Linked DNA regions of Homo sapiens. The protein of the gene in region 1 interacts with the protein of each later gene in a pairwise test. Each region holds a gene or a part of one and is shown in the gene's direction. Other genes may lie near its edges.

Region 1 (7,097 bases):
CAGACAAGAGGGACAGGCTGTTCTGTTTTTTAAAAAGGCCCAGATTAGACCTGAAACCCTCAGATGCTGGAGGAAGGCTTCACCTCCCCACAGTCTTTTTTTTTTTTTTAAGACAGTGTCAGCCAGGCACAGTGGCTCATGCCTGTAATCCCAGCACTTTGGGAGGCTGAGGAAGGCGGGTCAAGAGGTCAGGAGATCGAGACCATCCTGGCTAACATGGTGAAACCCCATCTCTACTGAAAATACAAAAAATTAGCTGGGCTTGGTGGTGGGCACCTGTAGTCCTAGCTACTCGGGAGGCTGAGGCAGGAGAATGGTGTGAACCTGGGAGGCGGAGCTTGCAGTGAGCCAACATCGTGCCACTGCACTCCAGCCTGGGTGACAGAGCAAGACTCTGTCTCAAAAAAAAAAAAAAAAGACTGTCTTACTCTGTTGCCCAGGCTGGAGTACAGTGGTGCGATCTCAGCTCACTGCAACTTCCGCTTCCTAGGTTCAACCAATTCCCTAACTCACCCTCCCCAGTAGTTGGGATGACAGGTGTGCACCACCACGCCTGGCTAATTTTTGTATTTTTAGTACAGAGACGGGGTTTCACCATGTTGGTCAGGCTGGTCTATGAACTCCTGATCTTGTGAGCCCGCCTCAGCCTCCCAAAGTGCTAGGATTACAGGCGTGAGCCACTGTGCCCGGCTCACCTCTATTAAAAGGACCCAAAGGAGTTAACGGACAGAAAACGTGGCAGAGGCAGAGATGGGGTGGTATGGACCAGAATTTGTAGTTTGCAGTGATTTCGCCTTCCTCTCCCTTCTTCCGTGTGGGCCCTGTGGCACCTAATGAAGCAAGGTATTGAGATCATCCCTCTGGAGCCTGGCATGGGCATCTCCCCTCTGGGCTAGAACATAGCTTAACAGATTGTCCGTGTGCCTCAACCCCTCAAAAACTGCCACTTCCAGTTCCTAACATTCTTGTTTTGTTTTGAGACGAAGTCTTGCTCTGTCACCCAGGCTGGAGTGCAGTGGTGCGATCCCAGCTCACTATGACCTCCGCCTCCCAGGTTCAAGCGATTCTTCTGCCTCAGCCTCCCAAGTAGTTGGAACTACAGGCACACGCCACCACACCCAGCTAATTTTTGTATTTTTAGTAGACATGGAGTTTCACCATATTGGCCAGGTTGGTCTTGAACTCTTGACCTCAAGTGATCCACTGCCTGGGTCTCACACAGTGCTGGGAGTACAGGCGTGAGCCGTCATGCCCGGCCCCAGCTCCTCACATTCTAAGGAAGTTGTGAGATGGCAGTTAAGAGGACTGCACTCGAGGGCAGGATTTGGGAATTCTAATGTGATGCAGTGTTATTCCTCTACCTGGACCTGTTTGCCTAGCTGTGCAACTTGTGCATGACATACTGCATTGTCTTTCAAAATGTGGTTGTTGTTTTTCTTTTTTCTTTTTTTTTTTTTTGAGACAGAGTCTCACTCTGTGGCTCAGGCTGGAGTGCAGTGGCACAATCTTGGCTCACCGCAACCTCTGCCTTCTGGGATCAAGTGATTCTCCCGCCTCAGCCTCCCAAGTAGCTGGGACTACAGGCACGGGCCACCACGCCCGGCTAATTTTTGTATTTTTAGTAGAGATGGGGTTTCACCATGTTGGCCAGGCTGGTCTCAAACTCCTCACATCAGGTGATTCGCCCACCTCAACCTCTCAAAGTGCTGGGATTGCAGGCGTGAGCCACCAAGCCTGGCCCCAAAATGTGGTCTTTAACCAGGATCACAAATGTGGTTGTTAAAAATGCACACTCCAGCCGGGCACAGTGGCTCATACCTGTAATCCCAGCACTTTGGGAGGCCGAGGTGGGCGAATCACCTGAGGTCCCGAGTTCGAGACCACCCTAGCCAACATAGTGCAATCCCGTCTCTACTAAAAATACAAAAAAAAAAAAAGTTAGCCAGGTGTGGTGGCACATGCCTGTAATCCCAGCTATTTTGGAGGCTGAGGCGGGATAATTGCTTGAACCCAGGAGGCAGAGGTTGCAGTGAGCCGAGATCGTACCATTGTATTCCAGCCTGGCCACAGAGCAAGACTCTGCCTAAAAAATAAACAAAAACAAAACAAAAGCACATTCCTGGGCCAACTCAGAAATTCTGCAGTATCTGCAGTAGAATCACAAGGTGTGCCTGGGAAGCTGAATTTCTATAAGCTGCACTGATATTCTGTTACATAGCAAGAGTTTGGGGACCTCTAGTCTTCTGGCTGTGACCATCTGATTCCTCATTCTTTCCTCCATGGCTCAGGTGTGCAGCCTGAGTGTGGGTATGACGATTGGTGGGTGCTGAATTCTCAACCCACAGACCCCTGGGAAAAATGGGTCTGGAGGAGGGACCCACAGATCCTGAATGAGCTCTCTGACCTGATGTCTAGGATGAGAGGAGGGGGCTGAAGGGCTTGCAGAGCAAAGGGGACTAAGTATTTAGAAGTGCCCTGAGTGATGCCCTGCTCCTTCTTAACATTCATTATTTGCAAATATTTGAGCACCTACTACATGCTAGGCTTATCTAGGTGCTGGAGGATACAGTAGTGAATGAAAATCTGTGCCCTGATTAAGTTTATGTTCTAGTGGGCATGGCAGGCAATAAGGAAATAAATAAATGGGCCAGGCATGGTGGCTCACATCTGTAATCCCAGCACTTTGGGAGGCAGAAGTGGGTGGATCACTCAAGCTCAGGAGTTGAAGACCAGCCTGGGCAACATAGCGAGACCCCATCTCTACAAAAAATACAAAAATTAGCTGGGTGTGGTGGCGCAAGCCTGTAGTCCCAGCTACTCGGGAGGCTGAGGCGGGAGGATTGCTTGAGGCCGGGAGATGGAGGTTGCAGTGAGCTGAGATCATGCCACTGCACTCCAGCCTGGGCAACAGAGCGAGACTCCATCTCAAAGAAAGAGAGAAATGAAATATATAGCATGTTAGTGACACGTGCTGAGGAGAAAAACAAAACAGGGAAGGGGGATAGAAACTGGTATTTGCTAAGTGCAATTTTAGATGGGGTTTTCTAGGAAGTGCTGTGACGTCATCACTTGCTTTAAAAGAGGCCAGGCGCAGTAGCTGACTCCTGTAATCCCAGCACTTTGGGAGCCCCAGGCAGGCGGATAACCTGAGGTCAGGAGTTCACGACCAGCCTGGCCAACATGGTAAAACCCCGTCTCTACAAAAATACAAAAATTAGCCAGGCATGATGGCGGGTGTCTGTAATCCCAACTACTCGGGAGGCTGAGGCAGGAGAATCGCTTGAACCCGGGAGGCGGAGGTTGCACTGAGCCGAGATTGCACTACTGCCCTCCAGCCTGGGCGACACAGCAGGACTCTGTCTCAAAAAATAAAAATAAAATAAAAATAAAAATGCTGGGCGCAGTGGCTCATGCCTGTAATCCCAGCACTTTAGGAGGCCGGGGCGGGTGGATCACCTGAGATCGGGAGTTCAAGACCAGCCTGACTAACATGGAGAAACCCCGTCTCTACTAAAAATACAAAATTAGCCAGGCATGGTGGTGCATGTCTGTAATCCCAGCCACTCAGGAGGCTGAGGCGGGAGAATCGCTTGAACCCGGGAGGCGGAGGTTGCAGTGGACCAAGATCGCGCCATTGCACTCCAGCCTGGGCAACAGAATGAGACTCCATCTCAAAAAAAAAAAAAAAAGAAAGAAAGAAAGAAAGAAAGAAAGAAAGAAAGAAAGAAAGAAAGAAAGAAAGAAAGAAAGAAAAAAACTGTTATAGACTGAGTGCCATTTTAGATGGGGTTTTCTGGGAAGTGCTGTGACATCATCGCTTGCTGTAAAAGAGGCCGGGCGCGGTGGCTGACGCCTGTACTCCCAGCGCTTTGGGAGGCCGAGGCGGGAGGATCGCTTGAGCCTAGGAGTTCGAAGTTACAATGAGCTATGATCAGGCCACTGCACTCCAGCCTGGGCAATGAGAAAGACCCTGTCTCTTAAACAACAACAAAGTCAGAAGGAGAGGCTGCCATGGCTACGGCTCCAGGTGACGTCACGGCCAGCTCCGTGACGCGCGGCCAGGGCAGCCCGCGGAGACCGAGGCTCCTCTGTGACGTCAGCAGCCGGCCGGGACACAGCGGGAGGGCAGGTGCGGCCGCGGGGCCTGCCGACTTCACGCAGGGTCCGTGGGGTCCCCGCGGCGCGCAGCGGCTGAAGGAGGCCCCAGGGCCTTGGCGACCGCAGCGGCGGCTTTAGCGTCAGTGACTAGGCAGCAGGGGGTCAGGATGCGGCGAAGCTCCCGCCCGGGCTCGGCCTCGTCCTCGCGCAAGCACACGCCCAACTTTTTCAGCGAGAACAGCTCAATGAGCATCACCTCGGAGGACAGCAAAGGGCTCCGGTCAGCGGAGCCCGGGCCTGGGGAGCCCGAGGGCAGAAGAGCCCGGGGCCCGAGCTGCGGTGAGCCCGCCTTGAGCGCGGGAGTGCCCGGAGGAACCACATGGGCAGGAAGCTCTCAGCAGAAGCCAGCGCCTCGGAGCCACAACTGGCAGACAGCCTGTGGCGCGGCAACCGTGAGGGGCGGGGCCTCGGGTGCGGGCGGGGTCGACCCCGGGTGAGCCAGTGGAGGGGGCGGGGCCTAAAGGGCGGTGCTGGGCGGGGACGGGGCTAAGATGATATCTGGGCACCTCCTACAAGGTGGGTCCTGTAGGGTAAAGGGATGGTGCTAAATGAGATCCCTTAAGGGGCGGAGCCTCGGTGTCCTGGACGGTTATGGGAAGGGGCGGGGAAAATCTTGTGGTTGGGTGCCACTGAGGGGGCGCGGCCTCAATGTTAGCGTGAGTGGCTCCCAGGACAATTGGGTTCCACCAAGATCTAAGGCTGGGGGCGGGTCATCCGTTTGGGGGAGGGACCAACTCTTTTTTTTTTTTTTTTGCAACGGAGTTTCGCTCCTGTTGCCCATGCCATGCAATGGCATGATCTCGGCTCACCGCAACCTCCGCCTCCCGGGTTCAAACGATTCTCCCGCCTCAGCCTCCCGAGTAGCTGGGATTACAGGCGTGCGCCACCATGCCCGGCCAATTTTTGTGTTTTTAGTAGAGACGGGGTTTCTCCGTGTTAATCAGGCTGGCCTCGAACTCCCGACCTCAGGTGATCCGCCCGCCTCGGCCTCCCAAATCGCTGGGATTACAGGCGTGAGCCACCGCGCCCGGCCAGGAGACCAACTCTTGACGGAGCCTCCCTGAGGGGCGGGGCTTCAGAGGGCGGAGCTGGAGCCGGGATAGGGCTGCGGTGGGACCAAAGCCTGTGAGAGACTTCCCAGCTGTCTGGCTTGTGGACTGAGCAATCTGCGGCCCGGTCTCGAGGGGAAAATAGGTCTGTGGTCCGCAAGGCCCCAGTGGAGCCCTTGGGTTCCCGCAGAACCGACTGGGTCTCCAGTAGTCTCTGAGGAGCCGCTCGACCTTCTCCCGACCCTGGATCTGAGGCAGGAGATGCCTCCCCCGCGGGTGTTCAAGAGCTTTCTGAGTACGGGCCAGGCCAGCTGCGATCCCCTCTGACCCTCGGGTTCCCCTCTCCGAACTCCAGTTCTCTCTGAGCCCCCGGCCCCCGTTTGAGTATCGAGCCCCTCTCCGAGCCTCAACTCATTCCTAGCCCCCATCCAATTATCCTAGCCGACCCTCTCTTCCTGAGCCCCAGGCCCACCCCCGGCCCCTCCCAAGCCCCTTCTGAACCCGGACACCACGCAGGCTGAGCCCCGCCTCTCCCTGCCGTGGGCCCCTCTCTGACCCTCTGTCCTGGCCTCAGGCCTGCTCTTCCAGGGGCTGAGCGTGTTGTTATCCCTGGCAGGAGACGTGCTGGTCAGCATGTACAGGTCAGAGGAAGGGACGCTGGCGCCCCAGGAACAGCTCTTTGGAGGGGGTGGGGAGCAGGGCCGGAACCTTGCTGGCGCTTGAGCCGATTCAGATCTGATTGAGTCATGTTGGCAAGAGCTGGGTCTAGGACCCTGGGGTGGGGACTGGAGGGTTGAGCAGGTCGGGGCCTCAGCCTCCCTCCGGTTCCCCAGGGAGGTCTGTTCCATCCGCTTCCTGTTCACGGCTGTGTCGCTGCTGAGCCTCTTTCTGTCAGGTGAGGGGCAGTGAATTCCCTGGAGCCCCTGCCCTGGGTGCTTTGGAGGCAAACCCAGCACATTTTCTCCTACATCCTCGGTCCTGCAGCTCCTGGCATTCCCCTGCAGAACCCCCTAATTCCCCCTCAGACTCCCACGGTCCTCCCCAGGCTTAACCCCCTCAAGCCTCTTTCCACTGTCCCCCTATGCCGGGGAAACCCATTCTCTTCCTTTTCCTTCTGAGACCCCTCCCTCTCTTTCTCCAGCATTCTGGCTGGGGCTTCTGTACCTGGTCTCTCCTTTGGAGAATGTGAGTTGGGGAGACTGTCTTGGGGTAGGGGGTTGGCAGGTTGTGAACCCGGAGATTGTGGGGGTCCCCTGGACTGTCGGTCTGCTGGGGTGGGGGTAGTGCCAGAGGCTACAATCCTTAAGAAAGGGCTGGATATAAACAGACTTATGAGGGATTGTGCTTGAGGGTCTCTTGGGGGCTCTGATACTGGGAGGTCAAGGAGGAGTCGAGGAAAGGGGACACAGTCTTCAAAAAGGAAGCCCTGGCCGTTTCCAGGCTGAGGTAGGAGCAAGGACGACGGGAGCTGAGCGGCTCTGTGTTTTGTCCCTTCATCCAACAGGAACCTAAGGAGATGCTGACTCTAAGGTGAAAGAGGGCACCTAGGGTGGGAAATTGGGGGGCTCAAAGTTGCTTCTTTGAGAACCTTGAAGGCGTGGGGGCCTTTGGGAGGTGTCCAGGGGGACAGGGAGCCAACCCCACGGCGCCCACCTCCCACCTCCAGTGAGTACCACGAGCGCGTGCGCTCCCAGGGGCAGCAGCTGCAGCAGCTCCAGGCCGAGCTGGATAAACTCCACAAGGAGGTGTCCACTGTTCGGGCAGCCAACAGCGAGGTGAGCCCCGGCCCACCTTGGAAACCCCTGATGGATCCCTGCTCCCAGGGTCCTGAGACTTAAGCTCCGCCCAGAGCCCTGCGGGATTTCTCCCGGTGCCCACGAAGTCCATCCC
Region 2 (7,802 bases), on another chromosome or scaffold:
CAGCCTTGCCATGATTGGGTTCCTTAGATCTCATTCCATTGCTTGATTTGATTGGTTCATGGAACATTTATGAACACCTGTGCCATTGGCAGGGGCTGCCCTGCATCAGAGACACTGCTACCAGTCCCCCTGAAAGCCAGGCAATACCATACTGAGTGCCAGGCAGGGCTAATGGCAAAGCAAACGTTGCTGTCTAATCTTTCTGCCGGGCCAGTCTCGTACAATGAGATGTTGCGGCTTCCTTGCTGGCAGCCACGGATCAGCCCTGGCTGACAATCAGATCCCATGGGAGCACGTGGTTGCAGAATCAGGATTCCCTTTTCCATCCCAAGGGTTCCTCTAGTAAAGGGGGCTGAGTGGAATGGCTTCTCCAAGTGCACCTGGGAGGGAGGCTGCAGCCATCATGGAATATTCCTGTCACACGCTAACCCATGAACAGAAACCAGGTGGATGTACATGGTCACATAGTCTGGCCAGGGACCAGAGCCTCCGGAGACCCAGGTTCAGGTCCCATCTGTGTCATTACTTAGTTATGTGAACCTGCACTGATCACTTAACCCCTTTGAGCTACATCACTTGCGAAAAAGTGGGGGTTATAGTATAATAATTCTTTTTTAAAATAATTCAAAGCATTCAGAAAAGCACAAATAGGCACACAAATGTAAGCACTGCTGTGTGGTGGGAGATTTGCAGATGACCTGACCAACAATGTCACCTTCCCCCTTTTCAGATCACTCACATTACCTGAGCAGAAAAACAACTAGCAGAGCACTGAAATGGTCCCAAAAGAGGGAAGAGCAAGAGGCAATCAGGTGGATCCTTTTCGAGTTATCAACAAGGTTTCCAGTCCTGTTTTCTATTGCTGATGAGAAGTTAACACACATTGAATGACTTATAACAACTCACATTGACTCACTATCTCAGTTTCTGTGGGTCAGGAATCCAGGCTCGGTTCAGCTGAGGCCTCTGTCAGTCAGGGATGTCAGCCTGGTCTGTGGTCTCATCTGAGGCTTGACTGGAGAAGGATCTGCTTCCATGCTCACACGCTTGCTGGCAGGATTCAGTTACTTGCAGATTGTCACACTGAAAGCCTGAGTTCCTTGCTGGCTGTCAGCTGGAGGCCACCCTTCGTTCCTTCCTCTTGGGCCTCTTTATAGAGCAGCTTTCTTTATCAGAGTCAGCAAGGGGAAGAGTCTATACAGAGAGTGTGCTAGCAAGACACAAGCTACAAGCCTGTATAATGTCATCACAAAACTGACATCCCATCTACTTTGCTGTATCCTGTTAGTTAGAAGCAAGTCCTGCCTACACAAAAGGGGAGGGGATTATACAGGGGTGTGACCACCAGCAGCATGAATAATTGGGGGCCATCCTACAGTCTCTCTGCCATACCCCTGAATTGGTGTCAGCAAGCATGCCAGCGTCCCTCAGGGTGCTAAAATCTCTAATGTGGAGAAACATTATCATCTTCACCAATCTGAGAGCTTCCCCTCAATGTGATCCAAATATCCATCCAGGTGGAAAGGAAGAGCCCCTTCCACACCAGCTTTCCCTTCAACTGACCACAAATGCGCCAAAGGCACGGCCTAGTCCTACCATGCTCAGGGATGTACCCTCCGCAGCTAGAGCATCCCTGCACGGTACACAGCAAGTGCACAATAAGGCATTTGAATGAATGTGTAAAGGGGCTTGCACGTTTCTGCCTGGGGAATCTTCCTTCTGCTTCCCAAATATACTTCTCCTCTGCTCAAAATTCCCATGTGGGCCCCAGACAAGCTGTGCCCCCAAAATCAGTGCCCATCCTTGGGCTCCAAGCTCCCTCCCTTCCATCTGGTGGCAGCCTTGAGTGAGGGGATTCCATCTGGTGCCCCCAGAACTTAGGCAGCATCTTCAGGACCATCAGGTTCCTCACATGAGTGCTAGGATCAACCCATACTTAAGGTGACGGATACTCCAAATACCCTGACTTCATCATTACTCTTTCTATGCATGTAACAGAATATCACATGAACCCAAAAAATATGTAAAATATTATGTATCCATAAAGAGAGAGAGGGCCAGGTGCAGTGTGGTTCACTGTAATCCCAGCACTTTGAGAAGCTGAGGCAGGAAGATCGCTTGAGCCCAGGAGTTCGAAACCAGCCTGGGCCACATAGTGAAGCCCTGTCTCTACAGAAAATACAAAAGTTAGCTCGGTGTAGTGGCTCATGCCTTTCGTCCCAGCTACTCAGAGCCTGAGGCCAGAGGACTGATTGAGCGTGGGAGGTTGAGGCTGCAGTAAGCCATGTTCATGCCACTACGCTCTACCCTGAGTGACAGAATAAGACCCTGTCTCAAAAAAAAAGAAAGGGAGAGAGAGAGAGAGAAGCTTGAGAGGAAGAGAAGGAGGCACCAGAGGACGTGAACGTGGAAAATACAAGGGCTAGTCATACTGGAGTAACATTCACAGTTAAAAAAAAGAAAAGAAAACAAAAGAAAATGGGCCCAGGATTCACATTTGGGGCACAAAGATTTCAACTAACTGGGGAGTGTGTAATGTCAATGTGTTTTCTACCAACCACCACTGTCCCTGAACTTATCCACACTGCCCACTCCTCAATACTCACCTGGAGGCACTGGGGGCAACTTGGAGCTTTTATAGAACCTGTGGCTCTCATGGCTGGACAGTCTGAGGATGCCCCAGGGGATCCGATTTCAGAACAAGACCCTGAGACAGGGCTTCCTATCTACCTGGTGACCTCCCCGCTCCCCTGTCCTCCTCCCCAGCAATTTCTGCATCAGAGTTTTCACTCTACTTTCTTCACTGAATAAAAGCTCACAAAGTGGAGGATCCATTGGGTTGGTAAGGATCCTCTTTCTTTTTTCTTTTGTCTTTTTTTTTTTGTTATTGTTGTTGTTTTGTTTGAGACGGAGTCTAGCTCTGTCACGCAGGCTGGAGTACAGAGGCAAGATCTCGTCTCATTGCAACTATGTCCTGAATTGGTTCCTTCCGGTGGGTTCTTGGTCTCACTGACTTCAAGAATGAAGCCGTGGACCCTCGCGATCAGTGTTACAGTTCTTCAAGATGGTGTGTCCGGAGTTTGTTCCTTCAGATGTTCAGATGTGTCCAGAGTTTCTTCCTTCTGGTGGGTTCGTGCTCTCACTGGCTTCAGGAGTGAAGCTGCAGACCTTCGCGGGGAGTGTAATAGCTGGTGCTTACTGGTGCATTTACAAACCCTTCAGCTAGACACAGAGTGCTGACTGGTGCATTTACAAGCCTTTAGCTAGACACACAATGTTGATTGGTGCATTTACAATCCTTTAGCTAGACACGAAAGTTCTCCAAGTCCCTAATCGACTCAGAAGCCCAGACGGCTTCACCTCTCATAACCTCTGCCTCCTGGGTTCAAGTGATTCTCCTGCCTCAGCCTACCCAGTAGCTGGGATTACAGGCGCCCACCACCATGCCCAGCTAACTTTTCTACTTTTAGTAGAGACGGGGTTTCACTATGTTGGCCAGGCTGGTCTTGAACTCCTAACCTCAGGTGATTCACCTGTCTTAGCCTCCCAAAGTACTGGGATTACAAGCGTGAGCCACGGCGCCCGGCCAAGCATCCTCTTTCTAAGTCACTCACCCATGAGTATGAATTGTTTGCCCAGATTGCTTCGCTCCATTGTAGCTGATTTCAACCCAGTTGTAAGCCTGGAGCACCTGGAGAAATCAGACCCAGGTGGGATCTCAAAGGTGGAGAGGGTGGGAAAGGAGCAAAAGAAAGAGAAGCGGTGCAGAAAGGGAGGGACACAGATTCCAAAGACATACCTGGCCTGTCTGAAGTTTGCCTCCTCCAGGAAGGGAAGGCAGCATTCTCCCGGTGCTGTCTCCCTCCTCCCCCGTGTACTGTGCACATCTCCTTCCCAGACTCAGCCCAGTTGCACCAAAAGCAAGCCACAAGGCCCATAGGCTAGTCAGACGCCCAACAACCCCACACAATGACACTTATGTGGGGAATTGTGTCCTGAGTCCCAAACGACTGACCCCCCCAATGTGCTGTGAATAAGCAGTGACCACAACCAGTACCACCTATGACTGAGTCGGGAGGCTGCTCTCTAAGAACCCCAGCTGCATGCCCTCTGGGACAAATCAGGCCACCTGGGGCTCCTTCACATCTCTCCAATGCTGTGTTAAACGCACTTTTAACCAACTTTGTCAAAATGCTCAGCTGGTAAAGTTTTAACGTAGGCCCTTGTCAATGCTTCAGAAATAAGCCTCTGGCGGCGCGACAGAGCAAAACTCCCTCAGGAAAGAAAGGAAAGAAATGGAGAAAGGGAGAAAGGGAGAAAGAGAGGAAAAGAAAGAAAGAAAGAAAGAAAGAGAGAGAGAGAGAGAAAGAGAGAAAGAGAAAGAAAGAAAAGAAAGAAAGAAAAAGAAAGAAAGGGAAAGAAAGAAGGAAAGGAAGGAAAGAAAAGAAAGGAAAGAAAGGAAAAGAAAACAAATAAGCCTCCAGGTCATTGCTTAGAAAGAAAAAGAAAAAAGAAAGAAAGAAAAGAAAGAAAAAGAAAAGAAAAGAAAATAGCCTCCCGGTCATTGCTCCTCTCTCTCTCTGCGGGTCCACCCCCATGGCACCCTCCCCCCTCCCCATGGTGCAAGGTTACAATGGAAAGTGCCTCAGCTGGAAAGGTCTCAGAATGTGGCTCAGGGCAGCCACAATCTTATCAGGAGCTTCTCTGTTTGGGATCAGGGGAACCGGTGACTTTCAGAGGCCGATAAGGCGGGACCCAACTTGTATATAAGGGGCAGCTCATGCTGCTGCTCTGCACCTTCCTCCCATCTTGCCTTCTCCCTCGAGTTGGGACCCGGGAAGAACCATGAAGTGGCTGCTGCTGCTGGGTCTGGTGGCGCTCTCTGAGTGCATCATGTACAAGTGAGTCCGGGTGGTGTGGGTGTGAAGACGCTGCCTCCCACATCACCTTTCTTTCCTCCCGTGTCTTCCTTCTTCCCTTTTTTTTCTCTCTCTCTTCAGCTGTCTCCATCCCCCTTTTCCGCCTCTCTCTCTGCCTTTTTGGGAGGCAGCCCTGCAGACATGGTTAAAACTCGGGCCCAGCCTGACTGTGGTTCCCAGCTCCAGCCCTAGTCAGCTTAACTTCTTTGCATTATGGGGCAGAAGTGGGAGCTTCTCCCTTCCTTCCATCTTCCTCTCTTAGATCAGCTGGTTAAGAGTCCAGCCTGGGTTTGGCTCCCAGCTCCAGCACTAGTCAACTTAACTTCTTTGCATTGTTGGGCAGAAGAGGGGGCGTCTCCTTTCCTTCCTTCTTCCTCTCTTAGACCAGCTTCCCTTCCCTTCTGGGGCTGCCACAGCACCCGGTCAGCAGAATCCTTGCCTAATTCCTCTTCCTTCTCCAAACCACAGGGTCCCCCTCATCAGAAAGAAGTCCTTGAGGCGCACCCTGTCCGAGCGTGGCCTGCTGAAGGACTTCCTGAAGAAGCACAACCTCAACCCAGCCAGAAAGTACTTCCCCCAGTGGGAGGCTCCCACCCTGGTAGATGAACAGCCCCTGGAGAACTACCTGGATGTGAGTGTGCGGGCAAGTGGTGGGGCCAGCTCTGAGGACTTGGCCCGCAGGAAAGAGGGTGTCCCAGGGGTCTTGGAGGACGGGCCTGGGCTCTGTGGCTCCAGGCAGTGACCCAGAGTCTGCCCCCTAGATGTCAGTGGCCCAGGGCAGGCAGGAAAGCTCACAGTCAGAGTTCATTCATTCATTCGTTCACTCGTTCATGCAATGTTAATTTCTCTGAGCGCCTCATTCTATTTCAGGGCCTGTGCTGGGCTCAGGGGGAGACAGCAGTGAGCAAACTCATAGCCTAGGAGACAAACACAGTCATCAAGGGGTCTCGCAAACCAATGAAAAGAACAGGCAGCAGGAGGACTACAGAGTGACGGTGTCACACTGCGAGAGTCTGCCACTTGGGCAGGGAGCCTCCCTGGAGCCACGCAGGAAGAGCAGGAGTTTCCAAGAGAACAAGACAGAACTCCGCATAGCCTGATCCCTTGTGCCAAACCCTGTAGCAGGCGGGAGCACAGTGCCTTTGAAGGGGAGCCGAGAGGGAGGGAAGAAGGGTGCTGCAGACTGCGGTCCGAGGAACTGAGGGGTGGACGCAGAGAGGCTCCATCCTAACTGCCTCTGATTTATCTTAAACAGGGGGATGACAAGATCAGATCTGAGTTTCAGAAAGATCACCCTGACTTTGTTATTTGAGACCCGATAGCAAACACCCTGCCCTCCTGCAGATATTGTATGTCCCCTCTGTGACTGGCACAGGGCACAAAGCAGTGATGCCTGTGGTTCAGAGACTGGCCTCTGCCATCCAGCAGACCTGGTGCAAATATGGGTCCTAGTGCCTCTAAGCCACAGGACCTTGGCCAAGTCATTTAAATACTCTGAGCCTGTGTCTTGGTCTGGAAAACAGAACCACTAATATCTACCGTCAGAGGATGTTGCCAGGAATTAACACGATCATGTTTTCTGGAGTGCTTAGCATGGGGTCTGCCAGGCCCTTGGTAAGAGGCTTAATTAGCGCATTTATTTAGTTCACAAATATTTAACAAATATTGGCACCTCTCTATGTGCCAGAGGCTATGCAAGTTGCCAAAATGATGGTGAATAATCAAAGTTCCTGGAGCTTATACTCTAAAGGGGATAACAAATAAACAACCATGTAAGATAATTTCAGGTAATGATAAGGGCCTTGGCAAATTAATTAATGGGAGCATGGGGAACAAGAAGATTGAGAGGGGGCAAATTTAGATAAAGTGGTCACGGAAGGCCTGTTGGCAGAGGGGACATTTGACTAGAGAGCTGAATGATTGATTTTTGATAAAAGGATCAGCCAAGGAAAGATCTAGAATAAACATTTTCCTAGCACAAGGAATAGCCAGTGCAAAGGCCCTAGGGCAGGAGTGACTGGTCATCGCCAAAGAACAGCAAGCAGACCAGTGTGGCGGGAACAGAGCCGGCAGGGGGAAAATGCTGCCACTAACAAGAAAAATACTGGTTGATTGGCGGAGGCGGGTGGATCACTTGAGGTCAGGAGTTCGAGACCAGCCCGGCAACATGGTGAAACCCCGTCTCTACTAAAAATACAAAAATTTGCCGGGCATGATGGCACACACCTGTAATCTCAGCTACTTGGGAGGTTGAGGCAGGAGAATCACTGGAACCCAGGAGGAGGAGGCTGCAGTGAGCCGAGGTCGCGCCACTGCACTCCCGCCTGGACAACAGAGTGAGACTTGTCTCAAAAAAAAAGAATAAAAATACTGTCAATGCCCTTTCTTGCAACCTGCTATACACATCTAGATGTAGAAATAAGAAAACTGGACAGGTTTCCATCTTTAAGTGGCTTGCTTAGCTTCTGATAAACAATTTAAGGCACAAGCACTTAAGCTGTAACTTGCCCGGTGCTAGAAGGTTCCACCGCCATCCTCTGAGAACATGCGCTGTACGGATGGGAAGACTGTGACAGACAAGACAATGGCTAAAGAGGGAACAGCAGATTGTTAGGTGCTTGTGGTGCTTAACAGAGAGCAGAGGGTAAATTGGGGGAGCAATCAGGGAAGACTTCAAGGAGGAAGGGACGCCAGGGCTGGGATTTGAAGGATGAAGACAGTGGCTGGGAAGAGAAAGATAAGAACTGTGAGGAATGAAGGAAAAGATGGAGAGGCAGACTGAGGAGATGACCCAGAGACAGCCCCTAGGGAGGCCCTGACAGAGAGACCCCGTTCCGTGAACTGCCCTGTCCTCGCCTGGACAGATGGAGTACTTCGGCACTA
Region 3 (7,389 bases), on another chromosome or scaffold:
CCTCAGTGCTTCCTAATCCCAGTGAATGGTGCCACTGTCCACCCAAAGGCACAAACCAGAATCTATGTTATTTTTTGTTCTTCCCTTTCTCTCATTCTCTATATATTCAATCTATCACCAAGTATATGCTTTACCTAAAATATGTCCCAGATCTGTTTACTTATTTCCATCTCTGCTACCACTTCCTAGTCCAAGCCACTATAATCTCTTTCAGTTACCTCCTAACTGGTCAACCTTTTAAAACTCTTGCCCCCTTACAATTCATTCTTCTCACAGCAGCCAGAGAGATTTTAATAAACATAAAAGGAATTCTACTTAGAACTTTTCAATTAATTCCCATTGTTTGTAGAATAACTTCAGTTGAGTACACGGGCACATGCCTGTAATGCCAGCAACTTGATAGGCTGAAGTAGGAGGATCACTTGAGTCTGGGCCAAGTCCAGCCTGGGCAAAATAGCAAGACCCTATTTCTAATTTTAAATAAATAAACTTCAAACATTTACCATGACCTTTGTGGCAGAAATTATAAGTTGCCTACTCAATATGTTTCCCCCTTCTATATATACATAAAAAGATATTATTAAGAGTGGTAACAGGCTCAGTTGAAAATAAAACCTCCCCAGACCCCACTATAAGTAGGAGTGGTCATCCAACCCAGTTCTGGCCAATAAGATAAGCAAAAATCTACAGGACAGGGCTTCCAGGAACACTATTACTTTCTTAATGGAAAGGGACAAATTTAGCTGCCACATGTTCTTTTGCCCTTTGCTATCCCCCCTTTATCCTGCCTAGAGGTGGAGCAGCCATCTTGGAAGCATGATGATGGAGGCCATGCTCAAAAGATCACAGAACAGAAAGATGGAAGCTTGGGTCCTTGTACTTGAACTAGCCCTGGACTGCTGACTTTGTGACTCCCATTATGTGAGAAAAATAAACCCTTCATTTGGTTAAACTGCCATAACTTGGTTTCTATTACATACAGCAAAAAACAGTCCTAGCAGATGCAACTCTGAATATGTCTCCTGCCTACCTCTTCAGCCTTATCTCAAGTAACTCTCCTCCTCATTCACTACATCACAGCTACACTGACTTTCCTTTTATTCTCTAAATAATTCAACCCCTTTTTTGCTTCAGGATATTTCCATGTGCTGTTCCTTTGGCCTGGAATAATCTTTTCCCCACTCATTACCAGCTAACTTCTACTCATTATTCAGGTCTTAGCTTAAGTGACAACTCCTCAGCATGGATTTCCCTCACCCATCCCACCCAATCCAAATTAGGTGCTTTAAAGCACCTGCACTTTTCCTTCTTAGCATATATCATCATTTATGTACTTTTATTTACAGGATTTTTTTCCTTTTAGTTTAATGTCTGTCTACCCAACAAGACTCTGAGCTCTATAAAGGAGGAACTGTGTTTGCTTGTCTACTACTGAATATATATCTAGCTCCTATAACAATGCCTGCCACATAGGGGACACTGAATAAATACATGCTAATCAATGAACAGTCTATTGAAATGCCATGTCCTTTGTGCCATTTTTCCTGCTTTTCTGAATCAGAATTAATCACTCTTCCCTCTATGTTTCCATGGAATATTGCTTTGACTCTTGGTTTAATTCAATCCTTTTAACAAGAAAGGCATGTTTTAAAAGATCTCAAAGTCTATTCAGGAGAGGAACACATAAAAAAGAATTATAATACAGCATACAAAGTATAACGGTTGAAGTATGAGCAAGATACAAAAGTAGAGCAAGGGAAAGGGTAATTAACTTAACGAAGTGGAAGAGATGAGACCAGGAAAGGCTTTCAGGGGGTGATAACATCTAGGCAGCATTTTGAAAGCCAAATGGGAATTTTCCAGGTAAACAAGGGAAGGCAGAAAACTCCAGGCAATGAATATAGCATGGGCAAATGTCCTACAGTGTGAAGAAGTAGGGCATGTTCATTAATAGGGTGTACAGTGTGAGGCAGGCATCAGAGGCATAGTGTGAATAACATCACTGAGGGGAACCATCTGACCCAATAAACATAAGTTTCTCCATGAGACTGCTCTTGTGGCTTTTCTTTTTTCTCTCTTTAAGCTTGACCAAAGAATTGTAGAACATATAGAATCGTGACATATTTCATAATTTATGTAATCAGTTTAATGCACAATCATGTATCCAACAATTAGAAAATTATTTTCCTTGAGACATTAGGATGTGGAGGTAGTCATATGTACATGCCCCATTTTCCTGCCCAGCTGCGACCTCCCAGTTGGCTCCATCGCTGTAGAAAAAAATTGTCCAAAATCAAGACTAGAGAGTTGGACAAAGTCGAGATCATTAAATGCCTACTATGTCACAATAAGTGGCTTGGATTTTATAGACAATGAATAGATACTAAAGGATTTTAAGCAAGGGAGAGATTATCCTCAAATTTGAGTCTTAGAAAGATCACCTTGAAGACAATGTATGAGAGACAAGGAAAACAGAATTCTATTGCAATAGTAAAAGTGACTGAGAACCTCAACTTAAACAGTGGTGATTGACAATGGAGAGAATAGGATTGCAGAGCTAATTCAGAGGCAGAATTAACTGGACTTAATAATTGATTAGCCATGGGGATGAACAAGACAGGAAGAAATCAAGGATCATCTGGAAGTTTCTATTCTAGAGACTGATTATTGTGTCATTTAGTGAGAGAGGTAATACCAAAAAAAAAGTGCATGTTTGAAAGGAGAGATAACTAATTCAGTTCGGGATATATGGAATTTGAGGTGTCTGTTGGGTATTGTAGATGTCTAGCAGGTTAGATGGACATATGGATGTGGAGCTCCAAGAGAACAGCCTGGGTAAAATATATGGATGTGAAAGTTCTCAAAAAGGATGACAAACTAAACTGGGGTGTTAGCAGTGAGCACAATAGGAAAGAACAGCTTTCAAAGATATAAAAATTTAGAATAGATAGGATCTAGTGATTGATTGGAATAGATAGGATCTAGTGATTGATTGGATAAAGGGAATGTGAAAAAGAGACAAAACCTCAGATTTTTGGTTTGAAAGACAAACCTCACATTTTTGGTTTGAAAGACAAACCTCAGATTTTGGTTTGAAAGACTGGGTGCGTGACAATTCCACTATTATAAGCTAAGTTATGTTCCCTCAAAATTCATATGTTGATGCCCTAGCCCCCAGTATTTCTATATTTGACTGTATTTGGTGATAGGGTTTTTAAAGAGGTAATTAAGGTTAAGTGAAGTCATATGAATGGGACCTTATCCAATATAACTGATGTTCTTATAATGAAAGGAGATTAGGATACAGGCATACATAGAGGGAGAATGTCATGTGAATATGGAGATGGTCATCTACAAGCCAAGGAGAGAGGACTCAGAAGAAGCCAACCCTGATAACACCTTGATCTTGGACTTCTAGCCTCCAGAGCAGTAAGAATATAAATTTCTGCCATTTAAGCTACTCAGTCTGTGGTATTTTGTTATGGCAGCCCTAGCAAACTAATATAGCCACCAACTAAGGTTGGGAATATGAGGGGAAAAAGTAGGTTAGGAGAAGGTGTTGAAAGAAGACTTTGATATAGAACATGTTGAGTTTGAGATTCCTGAGGTATATCCAGGTGGAGATGTTCAAATGGCCTTGAAATTAAAAGATATAACTGGGTTACAGGTACAGATGTGGAAATCACTGATATGTAGGTGATATTTTCAACTGTAGGAATGAATGATATCATCTACGAAGTCTGTGTAAAGTGAGAATGATCATCAAGAAGAGAACCATAAGGCATGTGAACATTAAAAAGCAGACTGAGGAAGAGGACCCAAGAAAGGAGAAAAATCAGAGACAGAAGATGAAGAGAGAGAGCTTAGAATTAGTCTTTATTTTATCCTGTTTTCATTATAATTAGTTAAGTACATATTGATAGCACCATTTAAAGAGCTTTAACTTAGTGAAGGAGGCAATATCTTATTCATTTCTGAATCTCAAACACCAAGCACAGTGCCTGACATTTAATATCCCTGCAATAAATATTTGTTGAACCAAATGGAATCGAAATTAGGACTTCATTCCCTTCTTTGTTTTGTTTGCTTATTTCTGGAGTGTGCAGCATGTATTGCCACTGATATTTTAAGTTCATAGTGAAAAATCATTTCAATGTGTTCTAGGCTTGGTCCCCTTCCAACCCAACCCCCAGGACAATAGTTTTCATTATAACCTTCTGTCTTTGCCATTCTGGATGGAATTCTGTGCACAGAAGTTATATACATATATGGGTATATCTATGTAACAAATCGCAGCACAGGAGTCCCCTGGGCTCCCTCAGGCTCTGGTATGACATATTTGAGCCATATAAATTCAGCTTCTCCTCTGGCATCTGTTAGCCGACTCACTTGCAACTCCACCTCAGCAGTGGTCTCTCAGTCCTCTCAAAGCAAGGAAAGAGTACTGTGTGCTGAGAGACCATGGCAAAGAATCCTCCAGAGAATTGTGAAGACTGTCACATTCTAAATGTAAGTTGATTCATATTTTTTCCCTTTTGAGCAGAAGCATGGTTTCACAGATTTATCATATTGCAAAGTGAACATTAGAAAGTGGAATCAAAGGTGACTTTGAATTATGGCTTGCTTATTGAGATTTATTGTGTATTGTTTTATTCTCTCTGTTCTTTGGTTAGGCAGAAGCTTTTAAATCCAAGAAAATATGTAAATCACTTAAGATTTGTGGACTGGTGTTTGGTATCCTGGCCCTAACTCTAATTGTCCTGTTTTGGGGGAGCAAGCACTTCTGGCCGGAGGTACCCAAAAAAGTAAGTAAATACACATCATAATCTGATGCTTCTGTTCTGAGTTTGATTGAATTTAATTAGTAGGCATATAAATTATTCTGAAAATGAAAATCATTAAGTCTCTTTTGTGTTTATTTTCTGGTGGTATGAAAAACTGAATCAAGATTTTTCTCTCCTTCATTTGCCTAATTATTTTGGTAAGGGAAAAAAATTTATCTTCTATATTTTGGTTAGTAATGATAGGGTGTAGAATTACCCATTCTTCTATAATGCTTATATTTAAGGAGTTAAGACTCCTCCTAGGAGCAAAGTTTTTACCTTAAGAAAAAATACTTTTAATCTTTCTTTCAATTATCTGGGCAGAAACTGATGGAAAAGTAATTAGACCACCACATAAGGAGAAACCACCCAAAGTGGCAGCAAAGGATTTTCAGGGATTATGTTTCTGACTTAATGCATCTGCAGTGAGAACAGGCAGCAAGCTGCTTTTCAGGAGGAGCAATTCTCATACCTGACTTCACATTTATTTATGACTTTAAAAAGAAACTAGAGCTTTTCAGCTCCTTGCCAGCTGCAATCATCACTGTCCCACTGAGATAGCAATGCCACAAGGTAGAAGCATGCGACACCAAGTCATTAATCACAGATAACTCAGAAAGCTTCTGATACTGGGGTCATTTGGTGAAGCTTGGCTAGCCACTGTAGTTTATATTTCTGTACCTTAGTGTTATTGTTATTCCTGGGCTCATAGGCAATGGGCAAGTTTAGATATAAAATAAATAAATAAAACCATAGTCCCAAATAAAACCATAGTCCCTTCATGCTCACAATTTCCATTTGAAAGATAATCAACAAATATACAAACTACAAGTTGTGAAGATAGTTTTCTGGCTTTGCCATGTTTTTCTGTTGGTGTGTGGATTGCTGCTGAAGTTATTGTTATTACTGTTGTTAATTGGTTGTCATAAGATGCTCATTTCTATTTGGTAACAGATGTAGGGAGAAAAAAGCACAAATCCAGGAAGGAGGATGATACAAGAAAATGGGTTGGCATGGACCGTTAGGAGCCAAAGGAGCAATAGGAGCAGAGAGAAAAAAATATGGGTCAGTGGGGAGAGAGAGGCAGAGCAGGAAAAGCAGAAAATAAGCTGGCTAAGTGTCTGAAAGATAACAGAGGTATAAAGCATAACCACCCTTGGGTTCTCCACCTCTGCTGTCATACCCACTTTCATTTAGTCCCAAAGGATATCTTATCAGGTTTAAGTAGGAGGGAGAGCAAGCCAGCCTACTTTGTTTGCCTTTTTATTTATACTTTGTTCCAGAAAAGATTTCAGGCATCACCCAATGCCTATAGTTAGCCCTATCCCCTACTCCTCCTCCCCTTACTGCTCCTTGCTTCTGAACTACTTACCGTTCAAATGTCCTTCTAGAGAAGCCACCTGTGTTCAGGCTGGCAGGGTGGGTAAAGCAATCGAGATCAGGAAGGAAACAGCAAATTAATAAGAGAGCCAAAATGCATTCCAATACAATTCTGGTACCACTTAGCTAATTCCCAAGGTGATATGTCACCCCACAAGTTGAACCTTGGATCCTCTTGAAAATTATCCATGAGTTAAAGGGCCATAAATCCTTTGTTCTCCACAGCCATAATGTACTTAACTGGGCATGGTGGATAGCTAGTCCTTTTGACCACCCTTAGATGCTTGCCTAAATAAGGGGCCAAATGGCCTTTCTTGTTTTATTGTTGTCATTGGTACTGCAAATGCTATTCCAAAAGAGTATATGTGTTTTTATAAATTTACAGTGCTATTTGCCTCAACGCAGCTATAAACGACTAGGTGGAGACCTTGCCTTTTTATTGCAAAGTGTCAAACTCACTTGCAGCTTCATGGTCTCCTCTCTTTCCCTATTATATCATCTTTACATCTCATTCTAGTTCTGTTTTTAATGATTATAAGGAGCAATCCTATGATACCTCAAACCAAAATAAAACTTGGTCAGTGCATGCACAGAAGAGGTGGGATATGCTGCTGAATAAAGTTTATCAAAAATCAAACCTCTTGTGAAGTAATCCATTTTGGGATGTCATTTTCAGCAAAGGGACTCTCAGAAATGAACAAAGCTATTATGAAGTAATCCAGATAAAGACAACAGGTGTCCCCTAGGGCAAGTTTCTCTACCATGAACAAATATTGTTGGTTTTCCATTCCAGTGGGGAGTTATGATTCATTGTCTTTGATATTTAAGTCATGGCCTTCATAAGACCAGGTTTGGTTCATTGAAAACTAAGAAATCAGCTGGAAATGAGGATGCTTTACTTAGTCCACTACTACCTTCAGGTCCCAGACAAAGATCTCAAGAGACCATCTATGTTTCCAATGGGTACGCCTATCAACAAGCCTGCCTTAGAGCAGACTTAAGAATTCTGGGAAGAGACTAGCAGTCAGATTAGTCTTGGAAGAGTTGCATAGGAAAGGGACACAGGCATCTTACATAAATTAAAGACTCTCCCCTTAATGGTATGGCCTAGCAAGAAACAACAGCAGATTAAAATCCAGGCTCTTTGGGCTTTCCTTAACAAATCTATGAGACTTGTTGGGACTCT

What was found.
Region 2: the proteins of SPAG4 (region 1) and PGA4 interact in binary tests that used the Homo sapiens proteins (3 or more experiments, as listed by UniProt).
Region 3: the proteins of SPAG4 (region 1) and TNMD interact in binary tests that used the Homo sapiens proteins (3 or more experiments, as listed by UniProt).

What each region holds. Positions count from the first base shown.
Region 1 is NC_000020.11:35,611,739-35,618,835, forward strand, and holds the start of SPAG4 (sperm-associated antigen 4 protein), read left to right. Parts: upstream 1-4,090; 5' UTR 4,091-4,265; coding exon 4,266-4,569; intron 4,570-4,598; exon of another isoform or gene 4,599-4,649; coding exon of another isoform or gene 4,650-4,674; intron 4,675-5,397; coding exon 5,398-5,502; intron 5,503-5,781; coding exon 5,782-5,848; intron 5,849-6,040; coding exon 6,041-6,102; intron 6,103-6,348; coding exon 6,349-6,392; intron 6,393-6,711; coding exon 6,712-6,737; intron 6,738-6,873; coding exon 6,874-6,982; intron 6,983-7,097. UniProt on the Homo sapiens protein: Involved in spermatogenesis. Required for sperm head formation but not required to establish and maintain general polarity of the sperm head. Required for anchoring and organization of the manchette.
Region 2 is NC_000011.10:61,217,556-61,225,357, forward strand, and holds the start of PGA4 (pepsin A-4 preproprotein), read left to right. Parts: upstream 1-4,791; 5' UTR 4,792-4,845; coding exon 4,846-4,901; intron 4,902-5,387; coding exon 5,388-5,550; intron 5,551-7,783; coding exon 7,784-7,802. UniProt on the Homo sapiens protein: Shows particularly broad specificity; although bonds involving phenylalanine and leucine are preferred, many others are also cleaved to some extent.
Region 3 is NC_000023.11:100,580,558-100,587,946, forward strand, and holds the start of TNMD (tenomodulin), read left to right. Parts: upstream 1-4,378; 5' UTR 4,379-4,461; coding exon 4,462-4,509; intron 4,510-4,673; coding exon 4,674-4,805; intron 4,806-7,389. UniProt on the Homo sapiens protein: May be an angiogenesis inhibitor.